3 separate regions of the Homo sapiens genome follow, and all the other regions are linked to region 1. Evidence: fine-mapped expression QTL. A gene starts in region 1. Each other region holds a variant in brackets. All regions are shown on one strand. Distances are from middle to middle. Region 1 holds the start of ORC5 (origin recognition complex subunit 5). Region 2 overlaps ORC5 (origin recognition complex subunit 5). Region 3 has its middle 22 kb from the start of ORC5.

What was found. PIP is the estimated chance that this variant, and not a neighbour inherited with it, causes the effect.
Region 2: its variant is the best candidate, but not a certain one, in a credible set for the expression of ORC5 in whole blood (TOPMed, PIP 0.68).
Region 3: its variant is the best candidate, but not a certain one, in a credible set for the expression of ORC5 in whole blood (TOPMed, PIP 0.64).

Annotation. Positions count from the first base shown.
Region 1 is chr7:104,205,926-104,210,171 of GRCh38, reverse strand. ORC5 (origin recognition complex subunit 5) reads left to right here and starts at 2,159. Exons shown (of 14, transcript NM_002553.4): 1 at 2,159-2,339. The coding sequence starts at 2,268. RefSeq lists enhancers at 1,981-2,140, 2,191-2,270, 2,311-2,500.
Region 2 is chr7:104,177,413-104,181,658 of GRCh38, reverse strand. All of the region lies in intron 8 of ORC5 (origin recognition complex subunit 5), which reads left to right. Among named protein-coding and RNA genes, the nearest start is that of ORC5, 28 kb to the left of the region's middle. The variant C/T (reference allele first, on the strand shown) is at 1,960.
Region 3 is chr7:104,227,893-104,232,138 of GRCh38, reverse strand. No RefSeq gene overlaps it. Among named protein-coding and RNA genes, the nearest start is that of ORC5, 22 kb to the right of the region's middle. The variant G/T (reference allele first, on the strand shown) is at 2,526.

The sequences.
Region 1 (4,246 bases):
CCCCTCCCCCAGCCTCGCTGCCTCCTTGCAGTTTGATCTCAGACTGCTGTGCTAGCAATCAGCGAGACTCCGTGGGCGTAGGACCGTCGGAGCCAGGTGCAGGATATAATCTCCTGGTGTGCCATTTTTTAAGCCCGTCGGAAAAGCGCAGTATTAGGGTGTGAGTGACCCGATTTTCCAGATGCTGTCTGTCACCCCTTTCTTTGACTAGGAAAGGGAACTCCCTGATCCCTTGCATTTCCTGAGTGAGGCAATGCCTCGCCCTGCTTTGGCTCGTGCACGGTGCACTGCACCCACTATCCTGTGCCCACTGTCTGGCACTCCGTAGTGAGATGAACCCAGTACCGCAGATGGAAATGCAGAAATCACCCGTCTTCTGCATCACTCATGCTGGGAACTGTAGACCAGAGCTGTTCCTATTCGGCCATCTTGGCTGCCTATCGAGGCCATTATTATTCACTGTTTGGGAGACTGCAATAGTCGTTTCAACAAATGAAATTGATTCCACTTTCCACACTGTAGCCAGAAGGAATATTTCTAAGTCAAATCTCAACATTTGCTTCTCTGCCTACAATTCTTTATTGGTCCCCAGCCTGACCTCCTACTACTCTCCAGGTTTATATGTAAAAACTATTTGCTAGTTTCAGTTATGGGATTGCCCATTTGTCCCTTTTTGTCTGTACATTCTTTTGTTTACAATTTCCTTCTTGGTCTCACAGGTGAATCTTTTCTTCAGCCTCAGCTTCCAGGTTCTCTCCTCTGAGAAACCATCCTAAATCATCCAGATGGTAAGGCATGTTCTCTCAGATCAACAATTATCTTTATTATGTAACTGCCAGGCGTTAACTGTGTATGCTGGAAATTGAACTGTGAAGACAGTGTTTCCTGTCCTCATAAAGTATATAGAGAGGGAGACTAACATTTTAGACAGTTTAGTCAGTTTTATTGAATGCTATAAAGATGTCGTGTTATGATTATAATATATGTATACCTTATATGCACAGTATGTTACGGACGTATAACCATCTTAGGAGAGTATCAGAGGCCAGCTTCCCTTGGAGACATTGAAATTTAATGGGTGGTCCCATTATAACCTTTAGAATTCTCTATTAAAAAGTACCTGGGCAAATGCTTTTGAATTGTTGCTGTGAAAATACTATTTTGACTAGCTAATACGTTATATACCACAACTCTCAAAAGATCCTTTTGACCATCACAAATCTAAGACTGATCTACAATCTATGGGCAGATTGAAGTCCACAATTTAAATTTATGTATAACAGGTAGTATGTACAGGATCTTCTACTCCTAGCAATAACCTAGCCAGTATTATCCCTATTTTATAGATAAGGAAGTTGAGGCTCAACTATTCCAAAGTCCCCCTATTCAGCAGTTGAGTCAGTCAGTGGTCCCAACCCAGGGGTTTCAGGACGCCAAGCTCTCTTTCCACCATGCACTTGCCTACTTCTGTATCTTATTTCCAGAATCTTCTAGTGTTTAGTCGCTAGTAGGTGCCTCACAAATAAATACACGTGAAAGCCTAATGCTAAAAGTAGCATTATTTTTACTATCAACCTCACCAACACACACTACGACTTCATCCCATTAGGACTGAGAGGCTTTCCACATCTGGTTTAAAGCTTGCACAAAAAATAGTAATTCCAAGCTGTGCATTAAACCCCATTACACCCTGTTTTGTACTCAATGCCACTAATTTCCCACAACGTCGTCAGGGAAAAAAACGACAACAAAAACATCTTTTGACAATATTAGTCTTCTAAGTCCGCCTTCCACGTCCCTCTAAGGGCCCCAGCTCCGGGTCCGTCTTCTTAGGCACTCAAGGTTTCTAAACTTGGGGCTTCCAGCCGGTAAAACTAAAGGCACGGGGTTCAGGGGTCATTGGAGGCCCACGGGACCCCCTTAACCCCTTCCACCCCTTCCCTATTCGCCCATCTCCATGTCGTCTCCTTAGCCTTTGAGTGGAAAAAGCGTCAGCCCGAAATCCCCACCAAGCCCAAGAATGGGCAAAACCTCGGCGCGCACAGGACCAGCGAGAAGAGGATGGTTCCGGCCCTGAGACTAGAGCGGCGGCGACGCTCGGCGTACGCGCTGCCGTCACGCCGCAGCCCGGCAGCGCAGGCTCCTCCCACGACGCTGCGGGTCCGGTTTCCGGCGGGAGCGTGGGCCGCCAGACTCGGGAGAGGCTCCGTCTTGTGCAAGGGTCCTGTGGGCTGGCTGCACTGGCCTCTGCGGTGGTGCCTGCCAGAATGCCCCACTTGGAAAACGTGGTGCTTTGTCGCGAGTCTCAAGTGTCCATCTTGCAGTCCTTGTTTGGAGAGGTATTGTAGTTAAACTGTCTTCCAGATCCTGGAGGCAGACGTTTCGGTAGTCTTGCGACCTGTTCCAATATTTGTTTTTTCGTGTTTGGATTGAGGGCCAAAAGGCCGTTTTTACGTTAAATAGGGGTGTTGTGGTTCTGTACTGCAGCTTCACCCACAGTCTCTTCCGAATATTGAAGAGGAGACAGTCTGAGAGCGACCGGCCTGCACTATAGGACGTTGCCTAAGACGTATTTGAAACACGCCACACTTTTCAGAAGTTTGCCCACATTAGCTCCTAGAAGTTGCTTGTTATCTTACCCCAACCCAATGACATTTATGTAACAGATGTGTTTGCAGGGTGTTATTTATTCAAATGTAAGTTCACACGTTTCTGTGCGGTAGTTGGAGTGAGTCAAGTGTAGAGAGGTGGTTGCTTTCAAGGCCACTAAGGGCCAAAGCAGTGCTTCAGGTTTAAAAATTTACTGGCTTTTCCAGAATTGTAACAGTCCAGAAGAGGTCTAGGGTAAACTTTTCTCCTTAACTGATAGTTCACAGGATGCCCTAGAGAGGAGTTTGTCTTGTCTGGATGAACATAGATACGTAGGGAGTCCTTTCAATAGGCAGAGGGTAGCGTTCACCAATTCAAAATTTAACCTATTTTTGACTATTTTCTGGTGGTCTTTGATGTGCTTTTTGATTCAGACTCAATCAGAATTGGAATTAATCAAACTTGGATCTTACCTGCGAAGAGAGTGAATGAGAATTCAGGGTCATACTCATACCCCCATCTTCTGGTTTGCTTTTTTAAGTACAGTCATGCGTTGCTGCCACTTAGTGAGGGGGATACGTCCTGAGAAATGCATCGTTAGGCAATTTAATCCCTGTGAATATCAGAAAGTGTATTTACACAAACCTAGATGGTGTAGCCTGCTATACACCTAGGCTGTATGGTGTAGCCTGTTCCTCCTAGGCTATAAACCTCTACAGCGGTGCTACTATACTGAATACTGTAGGCAGTTGTAACACAGTGATAAGTCTGCATCTAAAAGTGTCTAAACATAGAAAAGGTACAGTGAAAATAGGGTATTATAATCTTATGAGATCACTGTTGTATATGTGGTCCATCTTTGAATGTACACGTGACTGTACTTTCATCCAACTAGAAATATTGCATGGCAATTTGAGGTGGCCTGTGAAGCATTAGTGGAAAAGTACTACCCTCTGTCTAAAGGGGTGCATTATTTAGGGAAGTTAGAGGTCAACAACTGCATCTTCAATTAATTTTCTATTTATACTGCTTTCAATTATAGTTATATTATTACTGGAGCATTTTCTTGATTATGTTCTCTGCATTTCATCTATGGAACGCAGATCACTCCAGCCAGAAATGTTCCTGCTGAAAGAGCAAATTGGCAAATAGGGATGAGTAAACTTAGTGGTGGATCACAGAAGAGTTTTTGACCTTTGCTTTTAATGAAAATTATGTTTAACAATATTTTAATATCAGTTTTCTGCAAGGTGCTGTGCATGTGGGAAATACAAACAACTATAGCAAAGAAATATAAAAAATTGGTTCATGTTTCTAAGAATACTCATTTATTTGTTCAATAAATAAATATTTACCGAGCACCTTTTCTGTGTCAGGTACTAGCTTATTGCAGTTTATGTTAGCGAGATTTATGAAGGTGAAAGGTTAAATAACAGTGGAACAGTTCAATATAATTCTAGGTCACAATAGAAAAGATGTTTAAGGTATTATTAGGCAACAACATGTAATGGATAGCAGAGATACTCAGCAACATGCATTTAATTCTTGAGACAGAATTTTTTGTTTTTGTTTTTTGAGACAGGGTTTGGCTTTCTTTCCCAGGCTGGAGTGCAGTGGCATGATCTTGGCTCACTGCAGTCTCTGCCTCCCAGGCTCA
Region 2 (4,246 bases), 29 kb after region 1:
CACCACACCTGGCTAAATTTTTTTTTTTCGTATTTTTAGTAGAGACAGCATTTCACCGTGTTAGCCAGGATGGTCTTGATCTCCTGACCTCGTGATCTGCCTGCCTTGGCCTCCCAAAGTGCTGGGATTACAGGCGTGAGCCACCACACCCGGCCTCTGTGCACATTTTCTAATATGATATGACAGTCAAAGTCTTGGTAATATAACCAGTGTTTCCAATTATATCCTGTTATAAAGAGAGAGCAAATTCTTATTGAACTTAGTGAATAAACATATTTTCAAGGAGAAAAAAAATACCCATGAATAGTTTTTGAATTTTAGAGGAATGAAATGGGGAGAAAAAGCAGGTGCTTCACCTTGGTTCACAAAATATACTTTACTAAATTGCTAATTAGCAGTTCCATAAAACTATAAACTATAGGTAGATTAAGAGAGAAAATTTTCTCAAATCTGGAAAACAAAAACAAGCAAAAAACTAATGTTTCAAATAAAAATCATAAAAACATCCTCATCAGTTATTCAATCTCATGTAATTAATTTTTGTTCTGTTTGATCTTGATTAGCAGTTTCATGAGCCCATCATTTCTTCATTAGAGTTCTGATAGATTTTTATTGAGTCCATTGATCTTTAAGTTACTAGAAACTTGTATTTAAGAGTACTTGTTAGAATCTTATTTTATGAATCTGATTGCAAATGCTTTTAGATAAAAATCAGAACAATAACTGTAGGATGACAGAGACTTAGAATAGCCATGGATAAAAATTTGATGAAAGTTTACCATAATCAGAAATTGACAAGGAAATTTGATGATTTTTGTGGCATACATATAATGACCACAATTATGACTTGATGATATATTAGATCTCTAAGTTTTATGTAATTTTACACTGATATTAAACACATACCTATAAATATAACTGAAAGAAGATCCAGTATTACTTACCATTTGGCAATGCTTCTTACACAATTTACAAAATAAATTTAATCATTTAATATCTTTACAATATGAAAAATATGTCTTTTGAGGCTTTCCAGGGGCCTAGCTAGAAAATCCAAGTTAGTTCTAGGTCAAAAATATTTAATTTAGAATTTTGATATTGGGGAGGGAGGTCTATCAAAGATGTGAAAAGGTTTAAAACACCTGATCAAAACAGGATCACAGGTCACTGTGAAATGATAGTCATTCATTTAACCAGAATGATAATCAGAGGACTTCAAAAGCAATATAGAAAGTTACCTGGATTTAAAAAACATTAACCCTTTCAAAGCTATTTTCCTGAGTAATAAAAAATAAAAAACTAGTAAGAAAACACAGAAAGTTATCTTGATAAAATGCAAAATATTTGTTTCTTGGGACAGTTACCAAAAAAGTAAAGAAAAACCTCTTGCAGTATGATTGCTTCTCCTTATGGGAAGCCCATTTAGATAACCTGGAAGTTGAACCCAGTGAAAACAGTACTTGAATTTAATCAGACACAGGAAGAATGTGTGGTCAAGCTTGTGAGAACACACTATGAGTGTAAACAGAAAACTAGTACCTTGAGCAGGGAAGTACATGGCTTTTAGTAACAGCATGGGAACTTTTCTGGTTACATGGAATAATTCAGACACATTAAGAAAAGCCAAGTGTACAGAATCAAGTTATACTGGAGGAAAACATTGCTTTTGTAGGCCATCAAGACAAACATTTTAGAGTTAGACTTTAACAGCAGAGTTATAATCAGAGGAAAAAAGTGACAGGAGCTGATGAAAAAGTTAAAAGAGAGAGTTATCACCTCAATCAAGATTAAAGGTGTACTTTCTCAAGGGGAGAAAGAGTTGAAAGCAGTGATGTATGACATGCAGTAAGATGCAGCAAACATTAAACTTCTGAGATATAAGTCTGAGAAGCTTTAAGAGGAAAACTCTACCTCAAGAAATGAAATTACCATCCTAAGTGAAGAAGACAGCTTTACTAA[C/T]GTGAAACTAGAAAATTAAATGAAGACTGTGAAACAGAAAAAAAAAACAACAAAAAAAACTGCAGTTTAGAAGATGGCTATTAAGAAGCAGATTTCAGAATTCAAAGTGAAAACCTCTAATTTTTACTAAGAGCAGATCAATACTTAGGAAAAAAAAAAACTTCTTTCTAATATAGTGGACCAAAGTTTTAGTTTTATATTGTGGATTGAGGGATATATTTATGTCGAAGTTTAATCTTTGGAAAGACTTACAAATAATTCCCTTCTAATTACAGCCAGCTTGATCACACACAAATTTAATAAATCTACCCTTCACAAACCTTGTAATGACTTACGTAAACCATCCATGACATGCTTAGATCTTTAGTTATTTTCTTATACTTTTAAATAACTACATTTAGGACAAACTATTTACCACACAAAATTATTTCTCAAATTTATCCTTTTTTTTGACTGGGTGTGATGCTTCACACATATAATTCCAGCACTTTGGGAGGCCAAGGCAGGACAATTGCTTGAGCATGGGAGTTCAAGACCAGCCTGGGAAACATGGTGAGACCCTGTCTCTTAAAAAAAAAAAAAAAAAAAAATTCACTTTTCTTTTTAACCTTCTTTTACCAAAAATACATCTTTATACCCTTAACTTTGCACATCTGTGTCTCCTACTTACTGGTTCCTTTCTGTCATGTTTCTGTTTTCTTAAATTTACTTTCTAAAATAACCTTAAATAACCTTCAGAATTTTGACAAAATTATTCTTTTTTCTCAATAAAGAACACTTTTTTTTGGCTTTGTAAGAATTCTCATTAAAAATACATCTTATGTTTCGGGATACACTTTGTGTACAGAATTATATATGTTAATCAGAATTGTTAAGGTAACTTTTAGTAACCTTATTAATAAATGGTGCTAGGAAAACTGGCTAGCTGTATGCAGAAAACAGAAACTGGACCCCTTCATACATCTTATACAAAAATTAAGATGAAGTAAAGACTTAAATGTAAAACCCAAAACCATAAAAACCCTAGAAGAAAACCTAGGCAACACCATTCAGGACATAGGCATGGGCACAGACTTCATGAATAAAACACCAAAAGCAATTGCAACAAAAGCCAGAATTGACAAATAGGATCTAATCAAACTAAAGAGCTTCTACACAGCAAAGGAAACTATCATCAGAATGAACAAGCAACCTATGGAATGGGAGAAAATTTTTGCAAGCTACCCATCTGGCAAAGGTCTAATATCCAGAATCCACAAGGAACTTTAACAAACTTACAAGAAAAAAACAACCCCATCAAAAAGTGGGCAAAGGATATGAACAGACACTTCTCAAAAGAAGACATTTATGTGGCCAACAAACATGAAGAAAGCTCATCAGCACTGGTCATTAGAGAAATGAAAATCAAAACCATAATGAGATACCATCTCAAGCCAGTTAGAATGGCTATTGTTAAAAAGTCAGGAAACGATGCTGGTGAGGCTGTGGAGAAATAGGAATGCTTTTACACTGTTGGTGGGAGTGTAAATTAGTTCAACCATTGTGAAAGACAGTGTGGTGATTCCTCAGGGGTCTAGAACCAGAAATACCATTTGACCCAGCAATCCCATTACTGGGTACATACCCAAAGGATTGTAAATCATTCTACTATAAAGACAAATGCACACCTATGTTTATTGCAGCACTATTCACAATAGCAAAGACTTGGAACCAACCCAAATGCCCATCAATGATAGACTGGATAAAGAAAATGTGGCACATAAACACCATGGAATACTATGCAGCCATGAAAAGGATGAGTTCATGTCCTTTGCAGGGACATAGGTGAAGCTGGAAGCCATCATTCTCAGCAAACTAACATAGGAACAGAAAACCAAACACTGCATGTTCTCACTCTAAGTGGACGTTGAACAATGAGAACACATGGACACGGAGGGGAACATCACACACTGGGGCCTTTTGCGGGGTGGAGGGCAAGGGGAGGGAGAGCATTAGGACAAATACCTAATGCATGCAGGGCTTAAAACTGAGATGATGGGACGAAAGGTACAGTAGATCACCATGGCACATGTATACCTATGTAACCTGCACGTTCTGCACGTGTATGCTAGAACTTAAAGTAAAATTTAAAAAAACAATAATTCTCATTAAAAACACATCTTATTTTTGGGGGTATACTTTGTGTACAGAATTATATATGTTAGAATTGTTAAGGTTACTTTTAGTAACCTCAATTTCTAGTAAAAACCTAGGAAGCAAGAAATTTTGTCACATGTCAGTTTTTTAT
Region 3 (4,246 bases), 22 kb before region 1:
TCATGTCTTTTTTTTTTAATTGAGAGAGCATAAGAATAATCTTTTCAGTGGGCCAACTATAGATTACTTGGTGATAGGGAAATGCTCATTTTGATGTTGACTTAATTTAGATGTTAGCTGTTTACAGGAATTTTCTGGGAAACCCAGCTGCCTAGCACTTTAGAAGTCTTGGGGCCAGTAAGAAGTTGCAGCCGTTCCTGTTGCGGGTGGAAGGTAGCTCCTGCCCAAACTAGTTCATTGTCCAGGCAAAAGAGAGTCCTGGAATCTCTATCAGTTACTTTCATTGCGGTACCATCATTCCATCCTCTAACCTCAGCTCTCCTCACATACCTGACACGGGAGGAGAGAGAGTGAGCAGTTATTTGCTTCCCCTTGCACCCCAGGTCCTTTATTTTGGGGTTCGGATATGTCTAATTCACCAGTTGGGGTTTGTTAAATCCCTGAGGGGCAAGGCACATTCTGGGTCCTTTCCTTGTGATGTGAGCAGCTCTCGGGAGCCAGTTGTTATTTTGACTCCAAGGGTGACATCTAGAGGCAGAGCCGAGTAGCTGCAGCGCTACCTTCAGTATCTGAATCTTCCTCTCAGCAATCAGCTGAGGTCCTTTCCCGGGTGACCAGGACTACGGCCAGGGGACAGGGGTCGCGGGCAGAGACTTCTCCCACAATTTCGATCCTTCATTCCCATTTCAGACGGCATTCCGGTCAGACTTGGCCCTCCACTCTGGAAGCCATCAGCAGGGAGTCGTGATGAACTGTCAAGATTTAGCAAAAGACCAAAAACTAAGTCCGGTAAGAAGTGTGCTCCCTGCTTTGAGCATCAGCGACCCCCCTGGAGCGGGAAAGGAGGGCGGATGAAGCAGACGACCAAGCCCCACACGTGTCCTCCAGTCCAAACAGACACGACCAGGGTAGGAATCCTCTGGCTCTCTGCTAGCGCTGGTTTGCAGGGCGGCACCAGGGTTGGGTGGATGGGGCCAGCGTGAGGCCTGGCCGGGTCACACTCACCTTCTAGGACTGGGAGGCTGTGGATTTGGAGGGCAAGGACAATTTCCTTGATCTCTAAGGAGAATCGAATTTCGCCATCCCCAGGACCTTCTTGCCCATTGTCTTCCTCATGGCTTTCTTCCCTCCTCACTGACTTTCCAAGAGGTCCCCCAGTCCCCCAAAAAAACTGCTCCAGCTTTTTTCTTTCCCGTTTACCCAGCCCCAGAAGCTTTCGTGCATCCAGTCAGGGTTTTTCTATCAGTCCTCTGCTTTTTTCTTTCTCTATCCCACAGCTGCAGCTGCCTACGAACACCCAAGGAAATGGGCCCAGAGCCAGACCTCATCACTGTCCTTGACAACCCCTCCACTCAATTGAGGGATTTTCCTAATTTGGCATGCTGTCTCCAGATGGTGCAGCCTCTGGCTCAGGGAAAGCTCACGTCAATACTGTTCAAGAATGGGGAGGGCATGCCTGCCCCCTCCTCTTTGGTCAGTCCAGCAATTTTTCCAGCAATAGTAGGCCCTGCAATTGTTTGATCTTAATCTATGGAGTTCCCATCCATAGATGCTTCTCTCTAGAGGATGTCCATTTTTTTTCTGCCCAGAATCAGGTGACACTACTGACCACCTACCCCTTTTCCAGTCTCCCTGGTTTAATCTAGAAGTTTCAGAATCAGCTTACTGAAAGGCAGTTTGGTAAATACATTAAAAGTCTTCAAACTCTATAGACATTTTGTCCTAGTAATTCCAATTCTAGGATGTTAACCCAAGAAAATAATTGAACACATCAAGATCTATATACAAACATATTCAGAGAAATTTTTATAAAAGGAAAAATTGAGAATAACTTTAAGGTTTAGTTGGTGGTTGGATAAATAAATCACGGTGCACCTATGCAAATGAATTCTATGTAACAGCTATGTTGTAGCCATTTTAAATTACACTGGAGATCTGTAGTTCCTGAAATTAAAACATATTCACAATTTCCTGTAAGGAGTAAAGCAATCTACAAAACAGTACATGTAATATGTTCCTGATATGGTTTGGATCTGTGTCCCTGAACAAATCTCGCGTCAAATTATAATCCCCAGTGTTGGAGGTAGGGCCTGGTGGGAGGTGACTAGATCATGAGGGCAGCTTCTCATGAATGGTTTTCACCATCATGAGATGGTTTAGCATTCTCATAAATGGTTTAGCACCTTCTCCTTGGTGCTGTTCTCATGATAATCAGTGAGTTATCATGTGGCATCTCCCCACACCTTTACTGCTGCTCCAGCCATGTGAAGACAGCTTACTCCTGCTTTGCCTTCTGACATGAGTAAAAGCTCCCTGAGGCCTCCCCAGAAGCAGATGCTGCCATGCTTGTTGTACAGCCTGTGGAACTATGAGCCAATTAAACCTCTTTTCCTTATAAATTACCCAGTCTCAGATATTTCTTTATAGCAATGAGAGGATGGGTTAATACAATTCCCAGTACATGTCTCATTTGACCTTCTGCGCCATTTAACACTGCTGATTATTCCCTTTTACTTAAATCTTTC[G/T]TAGTTTTTATGACACCTCTTTCTTCATTCCTAATTTTTCTGTAATTTCTCTGGCTGCCTAGGCCTTCTCCATCTGATACTCCTCTATTTTTTGCTCACTTCTGAATGCTAATGTTTCTCAGGCTTCCATACTCTCCTTCTTTTATCTTCTCATTCTATCCATTCTCCTTGAGTGACTTCACTTATTATATGAATTTCACAACCATCTAAATGTTAATGACTCCTAAATCTAAGTGTTTAGCTCAAATGGCTTTCCTGAGCTCCTGAATCATTTAGCTAACTTGGCATCACCATTTGGATGTTTTCCAGGCCCCTCATATTCTACCTGCCTGAAACAGAATTCATTTTCCCTCTCCTAGTATTCCTGACCTCATGATGGCCACTGCTCCACTCAGTATCCTGGCAGTCATTGTTGTACTCTCCCTCTCTTTAACCAAACAAGTTTTATTATACCATCTAAATTGCCTTCAAATCTGTGTATTTCTCCTCATTTTCTCTTCCTGGTGTTGGTTTATCTAACAGACAGATTTATTGCATGAGTAAGGCACTAGCAGACTATGAGATTTCAAGTAGCCCTCAGAAATTCCTCACTGGCCAAGACTCTAGGCTCTTTGTCATGTAAGAATTCTGTAATACCTTCATCTGAGAAAAAGATGAACATTGATAAACAGGTACCAGAAGACCATAATACTGAAAGATGTACAGTGTCCTCTTTCTAAGAAATAATTGATACATTAATGTAAGTGGAAGAAATTAAAACATCAGATGTTCTTCAGAATCATTTTATCTTACTCAGTCTTGGGAATTTCTGTACACTGTTTACTTTGTCATGTTTATGATAAGCAGTAGAGGAAGCCCATCTCTAAAAGCTCCAAATAAGAGAGAAGAAACACCGTACTTAGACATTCTCACTGTTGATCAACTCAAATGTAAAAAAGAGGCATTTACTTTGCAACCTCCTCCCTAGGTAAGCAATGACCGGATCATATCTGCAGAGTTGAACTGTAAATAGACATTATCAGCTACTCAGAGGGCAGGAAAGGAATTCACTTTTAGAATTAAGAAATAGTTTCAAAAAAGAAAATTCACCAGTAGAAAATTGAGAAACCAGTGTGTAGATAATATCTAACTGTAAATGAACAAAAATGTTTAAGAAGAAGAAAAGGACATTGTTTAAAAGCCCTTTGTCTGGGCTGGGCATGGTGGCTCATGCCTGTAACCCCAGCACTTTGGGAGGCTGAGGCAGGAAGATTGCTTGAGGCCAGGAGTTCAAAATTAGCCTGGGTAACGTTGTCTGTTAGAAAAATCTTGTCTATTAAAAAAAAAAAAACCTTTTGACTGATATCTGTTGCCTAAAATTCTGAGTCTTTCAAACCAGATGATTAATTTACACTTTGCAAGGAGGAGAAAGTCATCCTTAATCTTTGTCAGATAATTTCTTCAAAACACCAGGAATCAAGGAAACAAACAAAAATTGAAAGTAACTTAATATTTGATATATCAAAAATATATATTTAACGTAAGAAAATATCATAACATAATTGAGTTTTCTTGCAATTATTTTATGGCTCAGTATAGTTTTTATTTGAAATACACATGGGGTACAGTAGTATACATCATAATCTTTGCAATAGTTGAGTCCTTAATGTGACCCTACTTCTGCCATTTCCTATTTGAATTCCTTATAAATTCTAAACCAGTTTACCAAGTAAGAGATTTTA